Homo sapiens: one gene and its partners. The protein of the gene in region 3 purifies or fractionates together with the protein of the main gene of each other region. This does not show direct contact. Each region holds a gene or a part of one and is shown on either strand. Other genes may lie near its edges.

Evidence for each region.
Region 1: the proteins of DAP3 (region 3) and WDFY2 purify together in Homo sapiens (affinity purification with mass spectrometry; 3 studies listed by BioGRID and IntAct, with this or other methods). This does not show direct contact.
Region 2: the proteins of DAP3 (region 3) and POC1A purify together in Homo sapiens (affinity purification with mass spectrometry; one large-scale study listed by BioGRID and IntAct). This does not show direct contact.
Region 4: the proteins of DAP3 (region 3) and YBX1 purify together in Homo sapiens (co-immunoprecipitation; 3 studies listed by BioGRID and IntAct, with this or other methods). This does not show direct contact.
Region 5: the proteins of DAP3 (region 3) and FIP1L1 fractionate together in Homo sapiens (co-fractionation; one large-scale study listed by BioGRID). This does not show direct contact.
Region 6: the proteins of DAP3 (region 3) and GRHL1 purify together in Homo sapiens (co-immunoprecipitation; one large-scale study listed by IntAct). This does not show direct contact.
Region 7: the proteins of DAP3 (region 3) and ATAD3A purify together in Homo sapiens (tandem affinity purification; one large-scale study listed by IntAct). This does not show direct contact.

Annotation. Positions count from the first base shown.
Region 1 is NC_000013.11:51,748,462-51,751,961, reverse strand, and holds part of WDFY2 (WD repeat and FYVE domain-containing protein 2), read right to left. Parts: intron 653-3,500; coding exon 547-652; intron 1-546. UniProt on the Homo sapiens protein: Acts in an adapter protein-like fashion to mediate the interaction between the kinase PRKCZ and its substrate VAMP2 and increases the PRKCZ-dependent phosphorylation of VAMP2.
Region 2 is NC_000003.12:52,147,924-52,151,423, forward strand, and holds part of POC1A (POC1 centriolar protein homolog A), read right to left. Parts: intron 3,249-3,500; exon of another isoform or gene 3,178-3,248; coding exon 3,093-3,177; intron 2,065-3,092; coding exon 1,893-2,064; intron 1,467-1,892; coding exon 1,287-1,466; intron 1-1,286.
Region 3 is NC_000001.11:155,736,801-155,739,510, forward strand, and holds the end of DAP3 (small ribosomal subunit protein mS29), read left to right. Parts: intron 1-145; coding exon 146-263; intron 264-1,356; coding exon 1,357-1,442; 3' UTR 1,443-2,210; downstream 2,211-2,710. UniProt on the Homo sapiens protein: As a component of the mitochondrial small ribosomal subunit, it plays a role in the translation of mitochondrial mRNAs. Involved in mediating interferon-gamma-induced cell death. Displays GTPase activity in vitro.
Region 4 is NC_000001.11:42,685,418-42,688,917, reverse strand, and holds part of YBX1 (Y-box-binding protein 1), read right to left. Parts: intron 1-3,500. UniProt on the Homo sapiens protein: DNA- and RNA-binding protein involved in various processes, such as translational repression, RNA stabilization, mRNA splicing, DNA repair and transcription regulation.
Region 5 is NC_000004.12:53,422,641-53,426,140, forward strand, and holds part of FIP1L1 (pre-mRNA 3'-end-processing factor FIP1), read left to right. Parts: intron 1-3,231; coding exon 3,232-3,325; intron 3,326-3,500.
Region 6 is NC_000002.12:9,999,735-10,002,777, reverse strand, and holds the end of GRHL1 (grainyhead-like protein 1 homolog), read right to left. Parts: intron 2,186-3,043; coding exon 2,071-2,185; 3' UTR 501-2,070; downstream 1-500. UniProt on the Homo sapiens protein: Transcription factor involved in epithelial development. Binds directly to the consensus DNA sequence 5'-AACCGGTT-3'.
Region 7 is NC_000001.11:1,515,162-1,518,661, reverse strand, and holds part of ATAD3A (ATPase family AAA domain-containing protein 3A), read right to left. Parts: intron 3,029-3,500; exon of another isoform or gene 2,847-3,028; coding exon of another isoform or gene 2,804-2,846; intron 2,651-2,803; coding exon 2,574-2,650; intron 1,496-2,573; coding exon of another isoform or gene 1,352-1,495; coding exon 1,250-1,351; intron 947-1,249; coding exon 887-946; intron 1-886. UniProt on the Homo sapiens protein: Essential for mitochondrial network organization, mitochondrial metabolism and cell growth at organism and cellular level. May play an important role in mitochondrial protein synthesis. May also participate in mitochondrial DNA replication.

The DNA of each region.
Region 1 (3,500 bases), on a different chromosome or scaffold from region 3:
GCTCAAAGATTAAAATGAAAGCTCATAAAAAAGAATGTTCTGATAACATGTAAATACGTGCTAGAAAACTAAGGATATATTGATATCTGGGGAACTATTTAGAACATGACTTATAAAGTACAAAATAATTATTTCTAGTATTTCTATTAATACCAAACTAAGGATTCTTGCTTCATCTTAGCCACTATTTTCTTCCATGACATAAATCACGTGAGTCCTCCGTTTTTGTAGTGCATTTTATACCAAAGGACTAATCACCAGGAAATAGATGGTTTCTTTTCCTCACCTGTACTTTTGCTGTGAATGGTGTAACAGATTTAAACAGCTTAGTCTCAGTCAAAATTCTTATGAACTCTCCATCACAGTAATGTTACATGCCAACTTGTGAGGGAAAAAAAAAACAACCCAAACAACTCCTTTTATGCTACAATTCTTTAACGTTACATGCCTTATTTCATGGTTTAATCATAAAAGAAATAAGAAATAAGCAGGAAGGGAGGCAGGGCCAGAACCACAGGGCCCACCCCACCCTGCTGTGCCACCTACCTCCTGCCTCTCCACGTCCATGTTCCAGACGACAATCCCACCATCACCGCCACAGGAGATCAATTGTCGCGTGTGCTGTGCATAGGAGAGGGCCTGGACTCTGTCGCTGTGAAAGAAACCAAGGGTTATTGACAGTTTAGGAGAACAAATGCAAGGCCTCGCAGCAGAAACCTTGGCAAAGTCAGCCAATGTGCTCACTCACTCCGAGCCCCCAGTGTAGATCTTAGAAACCTGTTGGAATTTTCAGCATGTTAAAGGTCAGAAGAGTATCCAGGATTTAAAATAAGTCTGAATGCTCCTGGCATGTTCAGGCCCCAGGAAGAGGTAATCTGTCAGTTACAACTTTTTTCCTTTTTTAAGGAAAAAAGCTGATTGTTGAATGGGCTGTAACTTCTTACTGGTTCCCTCCTTCCTTAAGTGATCAAAATGTGTAGCGTATGTTCATTTCACATTTGTTCAAGAGTCATGATTTTTCCTTTTAAAAAATTATCCTTGAAGAGTTTTGGAGGTCATCCATTGAGATGCCCACTGGATTTACCTGACACAGCCAGGTAAACTGTGTTGCCTGAGGTGTGCACCTCACAAGTGGCTTGGGACCAGGCATGCCTTTACTTGGCTCCCAGAGTGAATCCATAGCAGTAACAGACTTGAATTTCACAGGCTCTCCATTTCTCTAGTTTTTACTCTCTCTCTCCTGATTCTGTTTTATTTTTCTTTCTAGTTTGTGCATGGCTGACAAGTTATTCCCTCTTGGCGGCAAAAATGATGGAGAATCTAGTTTTATGGTCTGAGTGATTGCTAGCAATGGATTACAGAGATCTATTCTCTATTGGGTGAGAGAATAGGGTACATAGTTTCTTGGTCTTTTTTTTTTTTTTGTATGTTCGTCTATTTTGAGCTCAAATCAATGAAGAATTTTGTTTCTACTGGGAAGGAGAACAGCTCTTTGATATCTGGACTGGTGATTTTTTTGTGTTTCTATTTATTCTTGATCTGTGGCTGAAGTTGAAAAACTAAAGCTATTAAGCTGTGTGTGTCTATGTGTTTATAATCCAGAAAAGCCTTCACCTCTTGCTGTGTGTGGAATGCTTTCCTATTTCCAGAGGGTGTCAATAAATTGGATTACGATACCTTTTAAATTAAAAGAACTTGTTCTGATTGTTTGATAAACAAGTGCTTTTATAAGTTGAATCCTCCTAAAATCACAGAACATCAAACCTCTAATATTTTGAACCTGCTAGACTTAAACATAAAAATTCTTTTAATAGAAACTGCTAGCCAATTCAGTAATATTTTAAGAATCCAAGTTCATAAAATTAAGTTTCATTTGGCAAATGAGACTAGTAACATAGGTTTTAAAATGTTACATCTTTCTCTGATTTATTAGTGTTGAACAGAATACAAGTGTGCATTTTATTTTTACTTCTCCTAAATTTATTCAGGATAGCTGGTCAAGTGAACTCATACATAATGTTTAAGATTATTAAAAATATAAATTTGTGTTCAGCTGAATTGAATAACTATTCTGACAAACTTTTTATATGAATAGCAATTATGTTTTGTAGCGTATCAACTTAAAGATAATTTCCAAGGTCTTTAGGTAACAAAATGGACTAATGTTAACCTGAGCTAATCAATAATCATTGGATACCTAGATAATTTCTAAGTAAGTTAGAATACTGTGACTTTGATTATAAAGTATAATATTAAGTTTATATATGTTTGCTTCTTATTTTTCTATGCTATAGTGAGGCTATACCTTTGAGTTGTGTCAATACAGGAGTTCATTTTTTGCCACTTTAAGGGAATGTAAAAGTGCCTTATGTCACTATGGAAATTTCAGTAATGTGTGTTCATGAGTTTTGCTAGTCTGCTAAAATGATTATATGGGACGATTTCCAATTGTCCATATCCTCCCTCCTCCTAATTTTCTCTATGAAATATAAATTAGTTTCTCTGGTTAATTATTATAATTTAAATGGGTGGTTGAGATTATGCCAGGAGCATTAATGAAAAAGAAATACAGTGGTTTTTGTTTTTCAAATCAAAACAGGGTAGCTTTGTATCAAAGCAGTGGTTCTTGAACTTTTTGGTCTCACAATCCCTTTATACTCTTACAACTTATTTGACGACACCAAAGAGCTTTGGTTTAGTAAGTGATAATGATCGATATATACTTAATTTGGAATTAAAACTGAGAAATTTTTAAAATATTAATTCATTTGAAAATAGCAATGATGAATCCATTTCATTTTAACATAAGTCACATATTCTGTAAAAAAAGATATTTTCCAAAACAAAAAATTTTGATGAGAAAAATGACATTGTTTAATATTTTTGCGAGCCTTTCTAATGTCTGGCTTAATAGAAGAGATGGATAATCATCTTTCTGCATTTATCATAATCATAATATCACTTATCATGTAGCTTCTGGAAAACTCCATTGTATACTTTCGAGAGAATGAAGATGAAAAGGGCAATACTAAAGTGTCTATTTGTTCTGGAATATGAAAGAGAAAAATGAAGGACAAAACTTGGAAAGTCAGTTTTACTTGCTTTGGCTTATAATACTTTAGTCTGAAAAAAAGGTATAAGATGCATTACAATTTTGGCTAAGTTCCCTCAGTTTTGATGGCTTGCTTCCTTACTTTACTGATTAATGCCTACAATGTGAAAGGATGTTCTTTACCTTCTGTGGAATCTGCCTAGCTAGCAGACATTCTGTGTCTCACCAGAATTATTTTCAGTGCTTTATGTTGACTTGATTAATGCTCTTAAGAAAAAAAAAAGAGAGAGAGAGAACAAGGAGTACTCACGTGTGAAAAGAATTTTAAATTATTTAAAATTGTGTTATCATCTATGTTTATTTTTAAATGTTTTACCGCTTTGATTATATAACCAGACATTGCTTCTTAAACACCTGTGCTCCTGTCTTACCCTACTTAAAATTCCCT
Region 2 (3,500 bases), on a different chromosome or scaffold from region 3:
CCTGACTTAGAGGAAAACCAAACATAAATAAACAAAAAGAAAAGAAAAAAAAAAAGGTGCCTGCCTCACGAGTGAGCACAGAGCAGCCTCATGCACATAAAGCCCCAGCACTGCCCCTGACGCACAGCACATGGCAACATGCAGCCGACTGCCTGCCGGCAACATTTGCATAAAGGTGGCCAAAAGCTCACCATCAGTGTCATTACTCTGGGACCAGGTCCTCCGAGTCTACATTTGACTCAAGTGCGGGTCAGCAAGACACAATCTGCCAACAAAAGGCATGAGGTCCTGGGGACTGCCACCAAAGGCCCAGTATGGACTTGACACCCCAGTTTGCTGGCCTGGCCCCTCCTGATCTCAGGACCCTAGTCATAAAGCCTCTAAGAGCCATCAGGGGTCTCCCAGGACAAAGGAATGGGGGTGCCCTGGAGAACAGTAACTTGTATGGGGTCCCCAGAAGAACACAGCTCAATAGTCCCCAACTTCTGACTCATGTGGTTTCCTAATGTCACCTGGCACCCCAACCCCTTCCTCTGAAGCAAAGATATTTGACCCATGGGGAAGCTCTGTTGAAAGGAATGAAATAAGCTAGAAGTAGGACTATCTGTCTGCAATTCTTGGACCTTGAAAGGTCCTTTGGGTTACCTGGCCCGCTGTCTGCACAGCACTGGCTCCCTGGCCAGCAGGAAGGCTAGCCTCCAGGCTAAGCCCCCCATCTCCGAAGCCTGCGCCCCCATCTGGGAGCTCTGGAGCAAAATCATCCCCTGAGAACATCCCAGAGGAAAGTAGGCAAGCCTTACTGTCAGAGAGAGTTGGGTTCAAACTCCAGCTCTGCCACAGACCCACCGTGTGCTCTGGGACAAGATACTACTGTTCTGAGCCCCCATTTCCTCATCTGCAAAATGGAAATGCACCTAGCTTGCAGAACTGTCTTAAGGAACAAAAAGAAAATGTGTAATGGTAGTACTGAAAGTACCTAATTGTTTTTGATAATAAATGGCCCCTGTTGACCCAGTTTGTGCTTTGCCAACACAGATGTCAGAGGGTCATCATGGCTGACTATGGACTAACTTACATGTCATGCATCAGCTCCATGAAGCTTCTCGACAACTTACAATGCAGGAGCTATTATTGTTCCATTTTACAGATAAGGAAACCGAGGCTGAGGAAGCTTAAACAATGCCTAAGTAACTTGCCCGAGGTCATAAGTTGGTACCTAGCAGCCCCTGGGCCAGCCCCCAACCCCCAGGGTTCCTCCAAGGGTCTCCAGACAGAACAATGCTCACTTGGCACAGCGGACCCAGTTGATATGCTGGCTCAGGGAGAACAGGAATTTCTGGCGATGAGTTGCCCACACTTTGACTGTCTTGTCGTCAGAGGCTGTCACGAAGGACTGGCCATCACTGCAGAAGTGGACACTCCTCACTGTGGCTGTGTGTGCACGAAACACAGTGGACTCACCTTTGCTACAAGGACAGGCATCCAAGAGTAAGGAAACCCATAACAGTGACATGAGAGCCCACAAGCACATCAAAGCTCTCCTACTCCTCAAGCACCCCTCCCAAAGTCAGTCAAGCCCGAGTACCCCAGTCTCCACAAGGGAAAGCCAGAGCCTCTCCTATATGAACAGAGCACCATCTCTAGGCCCCACCCACATGAACACAGCATCAGGTGGCATTTCTTTAGGGATAGATTGGGTAAGCCCAGAACTCCTCTTCCAACCCTGAGGGGAGGGCTCCAACTGCAGCCCCAGCCTCTGATGGCACCTCTTCCAAAGCAGAGTAGAAGTCCCACTGTGACCAGTCCAGAGCCAAGCTAGGGGACCTGGGTGGGGATGGCTCTGGCACCAGGGCCCCAGACTCCAACAAGCCTCCTCAAAGTGTACGACTCACACATTGGGTACCCAGATGCGGACAGTCTTGTCTCGGGAGCCGGAAGCAAGCAGGTGTCCCGAAGGAGAGAAGTTCACACAGGTGACGGCATCCTTGTGGCCAGTGAAGCGGTAGGCGCGTGACTGCGGCTTCATGTGCCAGACCATGAGGCATGAGTCCATGGAGCCACTGGCTGAGGACAGTGGGTGATGCTATGACCTACAGCTCTAACAGGCTTCAAGCCTCCACCAAGACATTGGAGAGGCAGGGGGAGCAACTGGCCCAGCTCCATCTTCCCTGGCATCCACAAACAGACCGTGAGAAGTCTCCCATGGAGCAGAGCACATCTCGAGGTATGGTCTGGAGGTGGAGAGCCTGTGGCCCAGAGTTCTCCAAGGAGCACACCCACATGGGAATAAGACCGAGGCCCTTCCCATGCTAGCCTTGGACTGCAATCCAGAGCTCTGGGAAAACTCATTCCCATGGGGCCCAGGGTCTCCCCCCAGACACATCCTGAGGGCACCAGAGAGCAAGTCCTCCCCAGCTGGGAAGCCAGCCCCTCCCATTGAGAGGGCCCAACTCAGTATGAAGCCTAAAGGAGGTCCCCAAAACTGATCAAAAATCACTTCAGTTCCCTCTTAACCTTTACACATCAGAGGGTCTTGATGACAGGATGAAGGGGCAAGCCTCCTCTGCAGGAACCAGAAAGCGCAGTCATAAAAGCTGTGTACGAAACCTCATGCAACCAAGGAAGGGGGACAGTCAGCTGCAGCATAAGAGCAGTGGGGTCGAGGGGGGTGCCCATCTCTGCTCAACAGCCTTCTCACTGACAAGGCTCTTCAACAAGGTGTGCCTTATTACTGTGGGCAACAGAATCAGTAAAGCTTCAAGGAAAAGGAGTCACTGTTTAGGGCCCACACCAAAAGACAGACCCAAAAGGTGGCTAGGGTGTGCAGAAAAGACCCAGATCCCAGTCCCACCCTCAAAAGCTCTGTGGCCTTAGCAAGGCCCCTAACCTCTCTGACCCTCAGGCTCTGCATGTAAAATGAAGCTCATGAAGCCCAGTGCCCAAAGAGCTGGCAAGCAGAAGCAAGACTAGAAGCAGGTCTAGACAAAGCTGTGCAGTCCTTGTGCTCTGCTTCCCACCCACCACCCCTCCGAGGTAAAAACTTGGCCTGTTCAGCTCATAACCTAGCACCTAGACAGGGTGCCTCTTCTTACCCAGCTGCTTTGTGTTGATACTGAAGTCCACACAGGTAACTGCATCTCGGTGGCCCTTAAAATGCCTTTCCAGCGAGGGGTCCTCCTGAGAGAGAGCCAGGGTCAAATGTGTGAAGCCTGGGTGAGGAAGGGGCTTCCCCAGGGCCAGCACTCTTCCTACAACAGCCGGGGGAGTAGGGTTAAAAATGCTCAAGGCATGATCTTATATAAAGAAAATCCTAAGGAATCCACTTAGGATTAGTTTTTACTAGGAATAGTTTTTACTATTTGAATTAATACATCAACTGTGGAAATGCTTCAACAAAAACAAAAAACAAATGAGTTCAGCAAAGTTGCAAGATACAAAATCAAGACACAAAAATCAATTGTCTTTCTGTACACTAGCAATGAATAATCCAAAAAATAAAA
Region 3 (2,710 bases):
TATCAGGCAATGTTGCCAGAGAATGAGAAGTAGAGTTACATAGAAGAAAAACAAATACCTTACCTTCAAAGTGCTTAAGTAGAGTCTGTCTGTCTGGTGCTTTGTTCCTTAACTAACATGTTTCCTGATCCTTTTTCTTCCCCAGGAAGGATTTGATGCCCTGGATCCCTTTATTCCCATCCTGGTTTCCAACTATAACCCAAAGGAATTTGAAAGTTGTATTCAGTATTATTTGGAAAACAATTGGCTTCAACATGAGAAAGGTCCATCATTTAGTTTTTTCCTATCAGGGCTTTGTGATCACAGTAGAATCCCACTCAGTCAGAGCCTTGATCTCTTCTTCCCTTAACAACAGCCTCTAATTTGTACTTCATCCTTTATCTTGACTTCTTTCTGGCTGATAAATGGTACAGAAAAGCGGGTGGGAGGCAGTTAAGGTTTAATTTACAAAAGAGATTTTATCCCTAAATTTTCCATGATAAAGAAGGGAACAAAGGCAACTCCATCCACTGGGCAGAATTTCCAGGTAATTGGGTTCCTGCCACATTCTCCTTATTGAATTTATTTATTCAATAGACTTCACTGGAGAGACTCATGCTGGGACACCCACAGAAAAATTCATACTGTGCAAGGGCTACTCCAGCACCTAAGTAAATCTTTGCCACACCTGTCCTAGTATATGTACAGAAATTAACTTTCAGCACTATATTTCATCTACTCTGACTGAAAGCATTCCAACTGTTCATTTACTTGCCCTTGACCTCACATTTGAGTATGAAGAGGGGATATAGAAGAAAAGCTAAGGCTGCTCTATCACTAGATAATAGAGTTAATAGTAATCGGAGGCCTGGTGCAGTGGCTCACACCTGTAATCTACACTTTGGGAGGGCAAGGTGGGAAGACCACTTGATGTCGGGAGTTTGAGACCAGGCTAGGCAATATAGTGAGACCCCATCTCTATTGAAAAAAGCAAAAAAAAAAAAATACTATTTAGAATAGCTTATTAAAGGAGTACAGTGAAGAGTGTAAGACTAACTGTAGCATGTTAAGTTGGGATGCACAATAGACAGATTTCTAAGAGTTGGGAGATGTCACAAAATCCTGAAGTCCAGAAGACACTCTTGGAGTGGAGAGAGAGCTCCATGCTGGTTTGGAGGAGTAGACACAGAAAAGGAAGTAATGCATACAAAAGAAGAGTAGCTTGTTGGGGTGAGGGTCTAGAAGTAAGATCTCTTGGGAGATGATAATTACCTCAGAACGTAATTTGGATATGGTAGCCTCTGACTACACGATATTCTGGGGAACACAGTGCAGCAGGAGGAAACTGCCACTTACCTGTGTTTGTCTCCATTTTAGCTCCTACAGAAGAAGGGAAAAAAGAGCTGCTGTTCCTAAGTAACGCGAACCCCTCGCTGCTGGAGCGGCACTGTGCCTACCTCTAAGCCAAGATCACAGCATGTGAGGAAGACAGTGGACATCTGCTTTATGCTGGACCCAGTAAGATGAGGAAGTCGGGCAGTACACAGGAAGAGGAGCCAGGCCCTTGTACCTATGGGATTGGACAGGACTGCAGTTGGCTCTGGACCTGCATTAAAATGGGTTTCACTGTGAATGCGTGACAATAAGATATTCCCTTGTTCCTAAAACTTTATATCAGTTTATTGGATGTGGTTTTTCACATTTAAGATAATTATGGCTCTTTTCCTAAAAAATAAAATATCTTTCTAAAGTGTTGTGTTAGATTAATAATATGGAAGGAGTCTTTAGATTGGCCAAATTGCATTTCTCTGATATTCCTCTTGTTGCAGGTCAGAAGAGATCAATTCTACAGAAATTTCCAGTGGTTCTGTTGAGGCTTTATGGAATTCAGCATGTCAAAATTCACAGCTGGCTGGGCACAGTGGCTCATGCCTGTAATCCCAGCACTTTGGAAGCCCAAGGCGGGCAGACTGCTTGAGTTCAGGAGTTTGCAACCAGCCTGGGCAACATGGTGAAAACCTGTCTCTACTAAAAATACAAAAATTAGCCGGGCACGGTGGCATGCGCCTGTAATCCAAGCTACTTGGGAGGCTGAGGCAGGAGAATTGCTTCAACTTGGGAGGCGGATGTTGCAGTGAGCCAAAATTGCACCACTGCACTCCAGCCTGGGCAGCAGAGCAAGACTCCGTCTCAAAATAAATAAATAAATAAATAAATAAATAAATAATAAATGTATACTGTACTGTTTTACATGACCGACTTCAGCATCTAAGGATGTTGCTACCTGGAGGAAGTGGGATCCTGGAACGAATCCCACATAGGTATGAGGAATAACAATAATGGAAAATCAGGTATCTTCCCTTTCTCCCAGTGCTTTTCTAAAAGGAATTTCTGTTACCAAATCCTAGAGATGATACAATTCTACACAAATATATATATGGCCGGGCGTGGTGGCTCATGCATGTAATCCCAGCACTTTGGGAGGCCGAGGCGGGCAGATCACTTGAGGTCAGGAGTTTAAGACCAGCCTGGCCAACATGGTGAAACCCCGTCTCTACTAAAAATACAAAAAGTAGCCGGGGGTGGTGGCACATGCCTCTAATCCCATCTACTCGGGAGGGTGAGGCAGGAGAATTGCTTGAACCCAGGAGGTAGAGGTTGCAGTGAGCCGAGATCATGCCATTGCACTCCAGCCTGGGTGACTGATAGAGACTCTGTCTCAAAAAAAAAT
Region 4 (3,500 bases), about 110 Mb from region 3:
GTATTATATACTGTATTCTTGCAATAAAGCTACAGAAAAGAAAATGCTAAGAAAGTTGTAAGAGAAAATACATGTACAGTACTGCACTTATCGATACGGTAAGTGTACATCTGTCTGAAAGGTAATTCCAGCTGTAGACCTCATCTATAGCACATATCGAGCAACTGAACTTTTTCTTACAATGCCATGACTTTTCTCAGCATCACTAGCGCCACTTTGCATGGGTCCCATGGTGCTATTGAAGACTTACAGTATTGCACTAAACCACAATACCTGTGTACTACAAGTTCTTTTTACTGACATGCAATTTACTGGAGAGATAAACTGTTCATGTGAAGATGATTAGCGTCACATGGCATTTTAAGGGGCTCACTGCAGTAGCAATAGGCAGTGGCTACATATTATAATAGTACAATATTACTACAGTGAATGTCGTGCAGTTATGATTTAATGCTGCCTGAATCTTTATGTTTGTTTACATTTCTCAACTGCAAATGGCTGTATTAACTTTCTAATGCATTTGTGTACATTTTATGGTAGTAAATAATAAAACAGACTAGTATCTACAACATACTCAACTTTTCCTTATTTTGGGGGATACTTCTTGGCTATGTGGTTCATCTGAAGTTTTCAGGTTGTTGCAAATCTCCAAACATTTTTCCAATATATTTATCAAAAAAAATCTGTGTGTAAGTGGACTTGTGTGGTTCAAACTCACATTGTTCACGAGTCAAACTGGATACTAGTTCTCTATCCTAGATTTCAAGAGTAAAGGATTGTACTTTGGGAGGACACAGGGAGTGGGACCTACTAGTATTCTCCAAGTCACGTATCAGTGACTTGGTGAACACGGATGACTTCTTGCCAGCTTAAGATCAATGGTTAATATAACCAGCATACAAATCTCTCCTAATGTCTCCTGCATACATGTCATTGATGTTTGTCTTTAGGGTTCCAGTTTGGAACCTTCGACATCTCTCCCTTAGCAGCACCTGCAGAAAAGTCTTTAAACCTTCCCTAGTGCCAAAACATTTTGTCAGTTATGTTACGGTCTACCCATGACTTATGTGGCTTAGCAATGGATCTACTGTGATCAAGTTAAGATCAGTGTGACTTTAACAGCCCAAGAGATTTTTGGTAATGACATCCTTCCAAAGGTTTACACTTCTATTAAGAACCACACATTTGGGAGGCTGAAGCTGGAAGATCACTTGAGCCCAGGAGTGCAAGACCCATATGGGCAACACAGAGAGACTCCACTTCAAACAACCAACAACCACACAGTAAGTACTTTACACCGCCACCTTTAAAAAAGAAAAAAAAATCACCCTTTAGAGGCCGGGCGCAGTGGCTCACACCTGTAATCCCAGCACTTTGGGAGGCCTAGGCGGGTGGATCACCTGAGGTCAGGAGCTTGAGACCAGCCTGGCCAACATGGAGAAACCCTGTTTCCACTAAAAATACAAAATTAGCCTGTGTGGTGGCGGGCGCCTGTAATCCCAGCTACTCGGGAGGCTGAGGCAGGAGAATCGCTTGAACCTGGGAGGCGGAGTTGCAGTGAGCCAAGATCGTGCCATTGCACTCCAGCCTGGGTGACAAGAGTGAAACTCCATCTCAAGAAAAATCACCCTTTAAAAAGGCAATATTCAGTCTTACCTTGCAGGCCATACAAAAAAAAAAGATTAAGGGAGATAAGGTGCAACATTCTCTCCTTTAATTCTTCACCTCCCAGTATCAGGAATTAAGCAAGTCCTTTTATTTGTATAGCTGACCTACATGCTAAACTAGAACTTTTAACAATCCCAAACTTCACAAAGTAGATAGTGAAAGGCAGAAAACTTTTCAAATCCAGGACCTAGCAAGTCAGCAGACAAGAGCCCCAGTGACATACTTGGATCATTTAAGAGTCTTTCAACGGCTAAAAATAATCACCCTAAGAAATTATCTGTAACTATGTGGACAACAACCAAATTGAAAATGGCTAGGGTCTATTTCAGAGACAGCATAAGAGCAGTTGGTGAACACTAACTCCAGAGTCAAAAAACAGTTCCAATCCTGCCACTTATCACCTATGCTTATGGGGACAAGTAACAACTCCTTTGTGCCTCAGAATGACAGTACCTACGCCTCAAAGGTTTTTAAAGATTAAGTAAATTGGCTCATTTTAAGCACTTACTATAGACCCTAGTATAAATACTTGTTAGCTGTATCTATTTTCACCAACATGTGTTGGAAGTCACCTATCAGTTATGTACATATGGAATCCCCACAAGGGAGCCCCCACCCCAAAGGGAGACTAAACCTGATAGGCGTGACTAAAGAGAGATAGCCAAACCTTTCCCTGGCTTGGTTTATTACATCTTCCTAGACCATGGGTAATAAACTCAAATGCATACACAGAGGCCAGGCGTGAAGGCTGTCGTAAAAAAAGTATACCCCACCTAAATGTGGTGACAATATGGCCAGGTGGTTTTTACTTATGTGGAAATACAGGCCCCCAAAGCCAGCTAAAGTTCAGATCTTAAAAATATAATAATCTGGATTACTTGGTGTTATCTCCTGAATTATAAATGTTAGTAATTAATCCCAATTCCTTTAAAAAATACTGTACTGTCTAATCAAAGCATCTGGGAGTAGTTTTAGCCAGAAGGTCACAAATTTGTGACCTCTGCTCCAAATTCTTTCACCTCAAAACATTAAGAATTATTAATTTAAACATTTTAAGTACTCTGGAAACAGAAAAATATTCCTATTCTGGTCACTATAAACTGTTGCCAATTCATGGTAATCTTTGGTGAATATGGATCAATACTCAACCACTAACAAAATTCAACAGTAATCTGGGGGGAGCTAATAAACCCCTCTAGTCACATTCTCCGATTATGTTTTGTAGACACAGTTCACAAAAGAATAACTCAATGAATTTCTTAGAATTTCTAGATTACACAGTCTAACAAAATAAAGCCAAAACTTCTGCTATTTTTAAAAGCTCTATGCTCATGTTACTTAGCACCTTCTTCACAATATAACCATCAGGGAGAAGCCCTTTCATGAATTAATTCTAACAAGGTTGTAACAATTCATCAGGTGGTAATTCAGGCTGGAATAAACACATTTACAATGAAATTATGTCTTTAAAGGCAGAAAATTTACATACAATATTGTAATTATAAAAATTCCTTACAATCCTAGCATATATAATCCAGCGCATCCAAAAACCCCAATTAAAAGTCGTCACAATAGTCATCCCGAACACTGCACCCTCTCCTTTATACAGAAAACAGCACGTTATGTGTCAGTCTGTCTCCCTCCCTCATAAGAGACAGGTGCCTCCAGCCAAGTCTATTTGTTCCACTACACGAACTACATATAGAACCAACTGCTAGCTTCCAAAGTGATTTCTTTTATCACATACATTTTCCTTAATTAAAGCAAATCTTCCCTGTATTTAATTGGAGTCAGATTTTACAGCATCTTATTAAAAAAGTCCCAGAATCATT
Region 5 (3,500 bases), on a different chromosome or scaffold from region 3:
AAGACATTTGTTGTTAATGATGTCCTTTGCTTTGGCTTCCAAGAAAAAGCAGCTGAGATATATATATATGTATATATATATATTTTTTTTTTGAGACAGGCTCTTGTTTTGTTGCCCAGTCTGGAGTGCAGTGGCACAATCACAGTTTACTGCATCCTTCATCTCCTGGACTCAAGCAATCCTCTCACCTAAGCCCTCTGAATAGCTGGGACCACAAGCATGTGCTACTATGCCTAGCTGATATTTTAAATTATTTGTAGACACAAAGTCTCGCCATGTTGCCCAGGCTGGTCTTGAATTCCTGGGCTTAAGTAATCCTCCCGCCTCAGGCTCCCAAAGTGTTGGCATTACATGCGTGAGCCTGACCTTCAGAGATCAATTTATGGCCTTTTGTCTATCTTCTATTAGCCCTGATTTGTCATCTTAAACTTTCTGTTGCATCTCTGCAGGGAGCCCTCAGATTCTTTCTGGGATATCAGAATCATCAAAATATGATAATTTAATTCCATTGTAACTTCAGAGATATTTTTATATTCATTTACTGTGCCAGGAGGGGAGGTAGAGGCTCTTGGGAACATTTACTGCCTGTTTAAACTGTACATTAACTCAGACACCCAGAGTGGTTAGTTTCTTAGCTTTTTACTAGATGGTTGAGTCCAATATGGAGAAGAGGATTTTGATAATAGCATTAGCTGTCTACCTTACTGAACAAGTTTGTTGGCCTAATCAAACCTACGCTTTGGGGAACTCTTAAGTTACAGTAGATTTCCTCATAGGGAAACTCTATTAAATCTTCTTAAGCAATGAAAGAAAAAGCTGTCCATTAAGAACTTTCGTGGAATAATATGGTTCAATATTTTTTTCCATAATGTGGCATCAGAATAATATTAGATTTTTAAATTATTTGTCAGTGTTAGATATTATGTGCTTTTTGTTGCTGTGGTACATACTGTGTGTCTTATCATAAAACATTTTGGAACAAAACGGTAAGCTTAATTTATATGATTAAAGTAAATCAGTTTATGTGGTTAAAAAATACGGGCACAAGGAGATGTTTTGAAAATGTGGAGAATTGTAATTTTCTGAACTCCCTTTAGGGATATATACTTGTTAAGGCTGATTTCTCAGTTATATGTTTTTAGAAACATAGTATTTGCCATTTTGAATCTTTAGTGATTAAAAACAATCAATTTAAAGTTGAAAAAAACTAATTAGACTTCTGACCATATTTAAGGTACATTTTAAGAGGTGAATACTTCCATGTGTCCCAGACTTTTTGAAAACTAGAGATCCTCAGAAATAAATGGTAAAAGACAGGCTATAGAAAATTTTCCCCTCAACAGGAAAGTTATATCTAGATCTAATTTTTACCACTTTTAACAATTTGGAGAATTTGCTATCTGACTTGCAAGTCCAAACAAATTTGGTAGAATTTGTTCTTGATGGGAATAAATTTAAAAATGCAAAGGAGAGAGTCCAGTGATTGGCAAGAGAAAATAGTAGAAAAGGAAATAGAGCGAAAATAAAAATTTTGACAATGGAGGGCAGCAATTAACAGAGAGGAAATTACAGCCTCAGAATGCACACCTGTATTTAGTAGGATGTTGGAATATGAAATGTTTGTATATCAGAGGGCTGATGGCATGTGCTTTGATAATGCAGTCATGGTAGGCATAGCTTTGCAATTTAAATTATAGGGAAGAAATGGAAGCAATATTTGTTTTATTGTAGAGATATTTGGATTTTTGTAACATGTGAATATTAAGATCTTTCCCCAGCTGTATTGGAGGATATGTTAATCCTCCAATGAAATCATTCATGATCTTTGGGATCATGAGGAAATCTAGGAAGTCAGTGACTCAGGCATAAAATTAGAAAGGCTTGAACATTTTTAAATTGTACTAAAGTTATAGAGAAGGGAAGTCTTAAGTGGGCAAGGGATGGTAAGTGGGAACTGACTATGTACTTGAAAACATTTCAGATGTCATGATGTGCTTTTTATAGGGCTGTCTTTGTTAGCACAAAATAATTTGTGGAGTGTTTCAAGGTCTACTTGAGATAAACTCTTACTAACTCATGATTTCCAGAAAAGCCTTAAATTCCTCAAAGGTCTTGCTGGAAGGAAACCTAGCTCAAGGGGAGGGGAGGTCTATAGTCTTTGGGATTAGAAAGACTCAGGTTTGAAAGTTAGTTTTGCTATTTAATTCATGCTTGTGTCAGTGATTTCACTTTGGACCATGGCTTGTCTCTAACAAGTATACAGTAATTTTTCAGTTTTTGTGAAGTTTAGATATAATGGGTTTGGCATCCAACCTATGGTAGCTGCTGTTATTTGTCATTTTAGGAGCCTAATCTAGTGACTGTGGAAGGATCTATGGTATTTTAATTGTTTTGCTTCTATAAAGTTTTAAAGGCAGTATTGTTCAGAACTGAAATATAGATGAAGAGAAATTCATCTAATTTGCATCCACTTTTCATTGCCTATTTCTCCAAGTGACTTCTATATCATCTTAGGCATGCATACTTTTGTAAAGTCCTTTATCTGCATAATAGCTTTTAACATTATTTTATTTAAAATACAACTTACTAGGTTTTTCTCTTAAATTTATAGCATTGTTTTATGATAGACTATTTTTCCATATCCTTATAAACTTTAAAAAGATTGTAGAGGTGAGGCGGGTATTTAAATATTTGAATTTTTCTATCTAAATGCAAGTTATCAGAAATGGCAAACTGGTTCCTTTTTTATGTTTTTTAACACTTGGAATATATCACAAGGAAAATATCTTGTGTATGTTAAAATGAGCATTATTTTCAGGCCTTTTTGGGGAATATTTAAAGTTTCTGTAATAGAGCTGTAGTATGTGTTACAATTGTAGTGGTCCCAAAATTTCCATTTGTCTAGCATTTGCTGTCTTATTTAATTTCACAAAGATAAATTTATTTGGAGACTACTAAAACTAGTAAGTGTAGAAGAGCTCTACAGAGACTTAAAACTTAACATTATGATCATTGTTGGGTATGTTGGTTCTAGCTTGTTTATTAATAAAAATTTTTATGACAATGCAAAGTAGTGAGCTTAAACTCAGGGATATTTTTCAATGTGTATTGTGATCTGGTTTTATTTTAAAATTTATTGCAAACACATTTTGTTTTTATTTCTCACTGCTTTTATTATTTTTTAAGCATCTAATTAGGTGAAACTGAATTGATTCAATTTTTATGTTACAGGAGATTACCTGGGGCAATTGATGTTATCGGTCAGACTATAACTATCAGCCGAGTAGAAGGCAGGCGACGGGCAAATGAGAACAGCAACATACAGGTTTAGTATTTTAAAATAAATAATTTTCTTTAACTGAAGGATGATATCAACATTATAATTTAATTTATTCAATAGATAGTCATAGTGCTATGCTGTGTTTTAGGTGATACAAAGAGATTTAAAATGTGAAGCCAGTCATTTATTATAAAGGCATTTCCAGTTAGAATTTATAATC
Region 6 (3,043 bases), on a different chromosome or scaffold from region 3:
TCTCCACTTTGGCCCGAGGGTTACTGTGAAAAGTGCAGATGTCCCAGGAGCCCTATCAGGGAGTTTACGTCATTAATCTGATCTTGTATCCATTAAAAATATATCCTAGTGTCTATCATATTTAGGCCCTGGATTACCCTGGAATATGTTCAGGACGCCTGTTTTAGAGATTCTAATGATTTAAATATTGGTAAATTTTTAAACTAAGTATTTTCTGTTAGGCTTTTAAACACTAAGAATACTAAGATTTTAGGTATGAAAGCATTTACCTTCAGCTTTAGTGGTTAAATTTTGGTAAGAATTGGAAAATCATTCAGGGATCCCTGACTTAACAATTACGTGGATCATTTCAGGCATCAGTAAGGAAAAGTTAACATGAAGAAAACAACCTAAGCGCACACATTAAGAAATAAGCAGAAAGTGCTAGCAATGAGATGCTTTTCAGCTCTCACGTTTTACTGAGCAGTGCAAAGTCAAATTGAAAAACAGGAAATGACATATTACGAAATAGACATATAAAATTTAATTCCTTTGGTTTAAAATACATCTTCAATGATACAATTAAAAATAACACGCAAGACAAAATCAACTTCATAAAAAATACAAAAGTTATATGACCCATATCCCATATCTTATCTTAGAAAACCAGCAATTTAGTTCCCATACTTCATTAGAATACTTTAACCTAAGACTGTAACTACCAGTCCATTTACACGAATGACCTAGTCTAGTTCCCTGAACCTAAAGATACCCGTGACTTTGTTATAAAATTACATATTTTAGTATTTTTATATACTTAAATGTGTACAAAATGTTCCCCTGCCATAGTAACATATTTTTGTGAATTCATGAATGTTTTCTAGAATTGTTAACATACAAGATAATCAAAGCACGAAGGCTCTGATGCGTGATAAAATAATCATTTCTCAAAACAGGAAGATGAGAACTGCATTTCGAGTTGTATCACTTGGTACGCAATACTTGCAATCTGTGTGCTGTAATTACAGTGTTTCTTCACTCTAAGTGCATCTGACTGATACTAGCATAACAAAAGACGTGATTGCAGTAGTGTTTTTCTTTTACTTCATTTGTTAAACAGTGCAGAAATCCAAATAACAACATTCTCAACAGCAAACAGAATCTCTGTCATTTGAGAAGGTTTTGCTATGCTACAGAATGCCTGTGTTTGGAAAAACAGAGAAAAAGGTTTTTAGCGGGTTCCACTAAGCACAGTATTCTATCTGCTTGGTATACACGATCAAAAAATAACTTAACCTTTGTCTAGGGAAAGTCTTTAAGGTAGCTCTTACTGCATATCTTCACTATATGTACACAGACACCATATTTATATATTATATATTTATATAAGACATGTATGTACACATTTACAGACCTTCAAAAATATATTGCACTTATATACAATGCAGCTTTATCTTAACTGATTTCATACTGTAACCCATTAAAATTCTTCATGAGAAAGGCAGTTGATATGTCCGAGAAAGTCGCAAAGGAAGATTTCAGTAACATGCCCTGTTTAGTAAACATCTGGTGGAGAGTGAGAGGGTAAGGGAGAGAGGGCTCCCCCCGTACTCTTCAGGTGCGCTCCCGCTAACGTGAGGCAGTGGAGTTGTACTGAATTCAGGCAAGGGCACGAAATCCTTAAAGCCAAGCCTATCGCCTTTTCTGACTTCTGCTAGCGAGCAGGCCCACGACACTGTAGGCACAAGGCAGAGATCCCAATATTTTGATAAATAACGTAGCAGATGTCCTAAAGCTTCCCAGAGACTCTGTTAACTCTTGGAATAAAGTTTTCACTTTAAATCCTGTATATATCAGGAAATTCAAACATAATGGTATATGGATTTCTCTTTCATCTGAAAAACACCAATGCAATAGATTAAATGCTACCACCAAGCCAGATGCAGCCCCGCCTCCAACCTGCAAGGAACCCATTCCCTCGACATAGACCTGTGCTGGCGACATGGCTGACTGGGGTTACCTGCAGTTGCCAAACCGTAAGATCTAGAAACACCTGCACTGAACTCCTGGGGAGCTGTGGCCCGCAGGCCTTTAGATCTCCGTCAGGGTGAGCTTGTAAGACCCCCCGGCTTCTTCAATCTGCAGCTGGAAGGTGTCCTCATTGGAGTAATGCTTCACAATGTTGTCGTCCATGTTCACCAGGATCCTGGATGGGGGGGGACAAGACCAACCAACTTCACTGCCACTTGGTCCTGGAGTCAGACCTAGATTGACCTGTTAGCTCTCCCACTTACTAGTTGCAGCATGTGAGGCAAATTATTTAAATCTCCTTAAGCCTCAACTTCCTCATCTATAAAATGGGGATAATAATAGTACCCATCTTATAGGATTGCTGAGAGAATTGAGTTAGGAGGAAATCAGGTGATATATTTATATCATAGCATTTGGAAAATGAAATATACTGGCTTATTTATGATTATTATTTCCAGCATGTATTTCATAGTTGTCACTTGGTAAATGGTACTTGGCTCATACCTGTGATGCCAGCACTTTGGGACGCTGAGGCAGGAGAATCACTTGAGCCCAAGAGTTTGAGACCAGCCTGGATAACATAGCAAGATCCCATTTCTACAGAAAAATTTTAAAAACTAGCTGGACATGGTGGTACATGCCTGTAGTCCCTGCTACTTGGGAAGCTGAGGTGAAAGGATGGCCTGAGCCCAGGAGTTCAAGGCTACAGTGAGCTCTGATTGCACCACTGTACTCCAGCCTGGGCGATAGAGTGAAACCATCTCTAAATGAATAAAGCAAAAGCACATCAATAACACTAACTTACATGATGTGAAGTCACAGCCCCCTGACAAATTACACACTCCAGCAAGTGAGCCTCAAAGTTTAAATGAACTACTATTATCAAACAAAAAATAAAGAATACAAAAACAAGAAAATAAACAAAAATAAATTAACTACTATTAAGTCCAACTCTTTCCACTAGAACCATCTAGAAATTTCCCATTAGAATTTGTTTTAAAACTAAGCCAAAAAATTCTTATGCTAGCCACTG
Region 7 (3,500 bases), about 150 Mb from region 3:
TGCGGGGGGTGGGGGGGTTGTGCGTGCCTGTGGGGGGGGGTGTGTACGCCCGTGTGTGGGTGTGTGCCCATGTGCGGGTGTGTGTGTGTGTCCCTGTGACGGGAAGGCGTGTGTGCCCGTATGTGTGTGTGGGGTCTGTGCGCCCATGTGGGGGGGTTGTGTGCGTGCCCATGTGTGCGGGGGGGCTGTGCCCATGTGTATAGGGGGGTGTACGCGCGCCCATGTGTGTGGGTGTGTGTGTGTCCGTCTATGGGGGGGCATGCCCATGTGTGTGTGGGTGTGCGCCTGTGTGTGTGGGGCTGTGTGTGTGCCCGAGTGCGCGGGTGCCAGTGAGCCTGTGGGGGGTATGTGTGCGCCTGTGTGTGTGTGGGGGGGTACGTACCTGTGTGTGGTGTGTGTGTGCGTATCTGTGTGTGTGTGTGCGGGGTGTATGTGCGTACCTGTCTGTATGGGGGTGTGTTTACAGGTGTGAGTGTCCATGTGGGTGTGTGCCTGCCCGTGTTGTGTGGGGGTATGTTTGCGGGTGTGTGAGTGCAGGCCTCTGTGTGGGGGTGTCTGTGTGTGGGCCCGTGTGTGCAGGGGTGTGTGTGTGCCCGTGTGTGCAGAAGTGGGTGCACCTGTCTGTGTGTGCTGGGAGTGTGTGTGCGAGGAGTGTGTGTCCGTGTGGGTAGGTGCCTGTGTCTCCATGTACATGTGTGCACACGTCTGCATGTGTGCCTGTACACGTGTGCTGGTGCGTGTCTGTCCGAGTAGTTTCCCCTGCTCTAGCACCCACCGTCAGCAACCCCAGCGTTCTTGCCCCGTGGCCTCTGACCCACTGACTGGTCCCACAAAGCCACCTACGTTCTCAGGGACGCAGGCGCCTCGCAGGGGAGGCTGAGCTCACCTGCTGCTTCAGTTGGTCCTCGTAGCGCTGCCGGGCCAGCTTGTCTTGATACTGGGCCCTCTGGGGGAGAAGAGGGCGGCAAAGACACATCTCAGCCGGGAGCTGCAGTCTGGGCCGACTGGGCGGAGCGCCGGGGACTCCGACGCGCCATCAGCCTCACACAAACGTGGGGAGGCGCGGGGACCTCCCGTCCGGCTCAGCAGTGAGGGACCTTACAGGTCTTAGGCGTTTGTGCAAGGCCGTTCCGAGGGCAGCTCTAATGGCTGACTCCAGAGTGCCCCGGGACCACACCCAGCTCCCAGTCCTGCCCCAGGCCGCTCCCCGCAGCCGGGCGGCCTCCCTCGCGGCCTCTTGCGCTCTTACGGCCTGGTGCTGCCGGGTCTCCTCGCTCAGGGTCTTCCTCCTCTCCTCAGCCTGCGCCCGGATCTGCTCGCTCTTGAGCTGCTCCACGGCGGCCTCATACTCCTGCAGAGCACAGCACTCACCAGCTGGCACTTGCTCAGGGCTGGCACTGCCTGACAGCCGCTCCTGTGTCTGCACGGCTCCGGCACGGCAGAGACTCCATGCCCAGACTAGTGTGTGCAGCAGGCTCAGGGCTTCCAGCCGCATCTGCACCCAGGATCAGGCCCTGGAGGAATCCAGACCCACAGGCACAGAAGCACCAGCAGAAGCCCGCGAAGGCCCCCCGGGAGGGAGGCCGGACACCCCCTTTTGGACTGCACTGAGGGCAGAGCTCATGCTTATTTTAGGAATCCTGCTGAGTGGACCGGGTGCGACGGCTCTCGCTTATAATCCCAGCACTTTGGGAGGCCAAAGTGGGTGGATCAACTGAGGTTAGTAGTTCGAGACCAGCCTGAACAACATGGTGAAACCCCATCTCTACTAAAAATACAAAAATTAGCCAGATGTGGTGGCGGGCTCTTGTAGTCCCAGCTGCTCGGAGGCTGAGGAAAGAGGTTGAACCCGGGAGGTAGAGGTTGCGGTGAGCTGAGATCACGCCACTGCACACCGGCCTGGAAGACAGACTAAGACTCTGTCTATAAAAAAATAATAATATGAAACAAGGCAGGCACAGTGGCACAAGCCTGTAATCCCAGCACTTTGGGAGGCCGAGGCAGGTGGATCACTTGAAGTCAGGAGTTCAAGACCAGGCTGGCCAACATGGTGAAACCCCGACTCTACTAAAAATATAAAAATTAGCCAGGTGTGGTGGCGGGTGCCTGTAATCCCAGCTATTCAGGAGGCTGAGGCAGGAGAATTGCTTGAACCCAGGAGCGGAGGTTGCAGTGAGCCCAGATGGCACCACAGAACTCCAGCCTGGGAAACAGAGACTCCGTTTCAAAATAAATAAATAAAACGAAATAAAACAAAAAAATCCTGCTGAGTGTAATGAAATGAGAAGATCCAGGCCATCCGGACGACCAGACGCCCTCACCAACACCGGCCCTCCCTCCGGACGACCAGACGCCCTCACCAACACCAGCCCTCCCTCTCGGGCGGCTCTGCGGCAGCGTCTCTCACCTCCCTTTGTTTCCTTCTGTGAAATGAGGCGCCCAAGCTTGGCCCTGGGCCCCACTGCTGCCCATGTACACACCCCCGGCCCTACCCACCGGCAGTAGCCCTACCAATCTCCATGCCCGAACCCCATGTGCGCCCCGGCCTCCCCACCCACACCGGCCCCACTCACTTTGAGCTTGGACTGTTGCTCCAACTGCAGCGTCTGCTCCTGCATCTGTGCCAGATTCAGGGCGTCCTTGGCATAACCTGCAGACGCAAGGACACGGAGGGCAGGTGTTAGGATACACGGATGCCGCTGGGCAGGCACGCACACCAGCCAAGGGGCTTTCTGGAATCCACGGCCACGCCTCGACCTCAAAGCCCCCAGCCCTGCCTCCCCATCCTCCTTCCTAGTCAGACCTGGCGTGACGATGCACCATCCCCAGCACACGGCCTGATGCATTTGTGAGGTTTTATCCCCCCAGGGATGGTCTTGGAGAGCCACATCAGGAAGGCCATCCCACGTGGACGGGAGGAGGCTCTTTCCCAATTCAACAGAAAGTCAGGCGATGGCTAAAGTGTCCTCTATTTTTTCACGTTACATTCGCTTTTCCTAAGCTTCCAATGGCTGTTGTCATTGATCTGCTATCAAGCACATGCAGGCAAGAAAGGGAATGAATAAGAATAGGATACCAGCCAACAAGCTCAGGGTGACGAGGACAAGCATCTGACAACGTCCTCAGTTACGTTTTGTTCCTAGAGGGGAACTGACACAGGTCGATGTTTGGGTGTCGTGGGACAGAAGTACGTATTCTCTGAGCTGCTGAGGCCTCAGCATCAGGTCTCAAAATTTTCTGGGATGACAGTTTTCCCATCATAAAACTTTACCATAAAAATCTTTTGGCTGGGCGCGGTGGCTCACTACTGTACTCCCAGCACTTTGAGAGGCTGAGACGGGTGGATCACTTGAGTCCAGGAGTTAGAGACCGGCCTGACCAATGTGGTGAAACCCCATCTCTACTAAATATACAAAAATTAGCTGGGCGCAGTGGCGGACGCCTGTAATCCCAGCTACTCTGAGGCTGAGGTGGGAGGATGGCTTGAACCCCGGAGACAG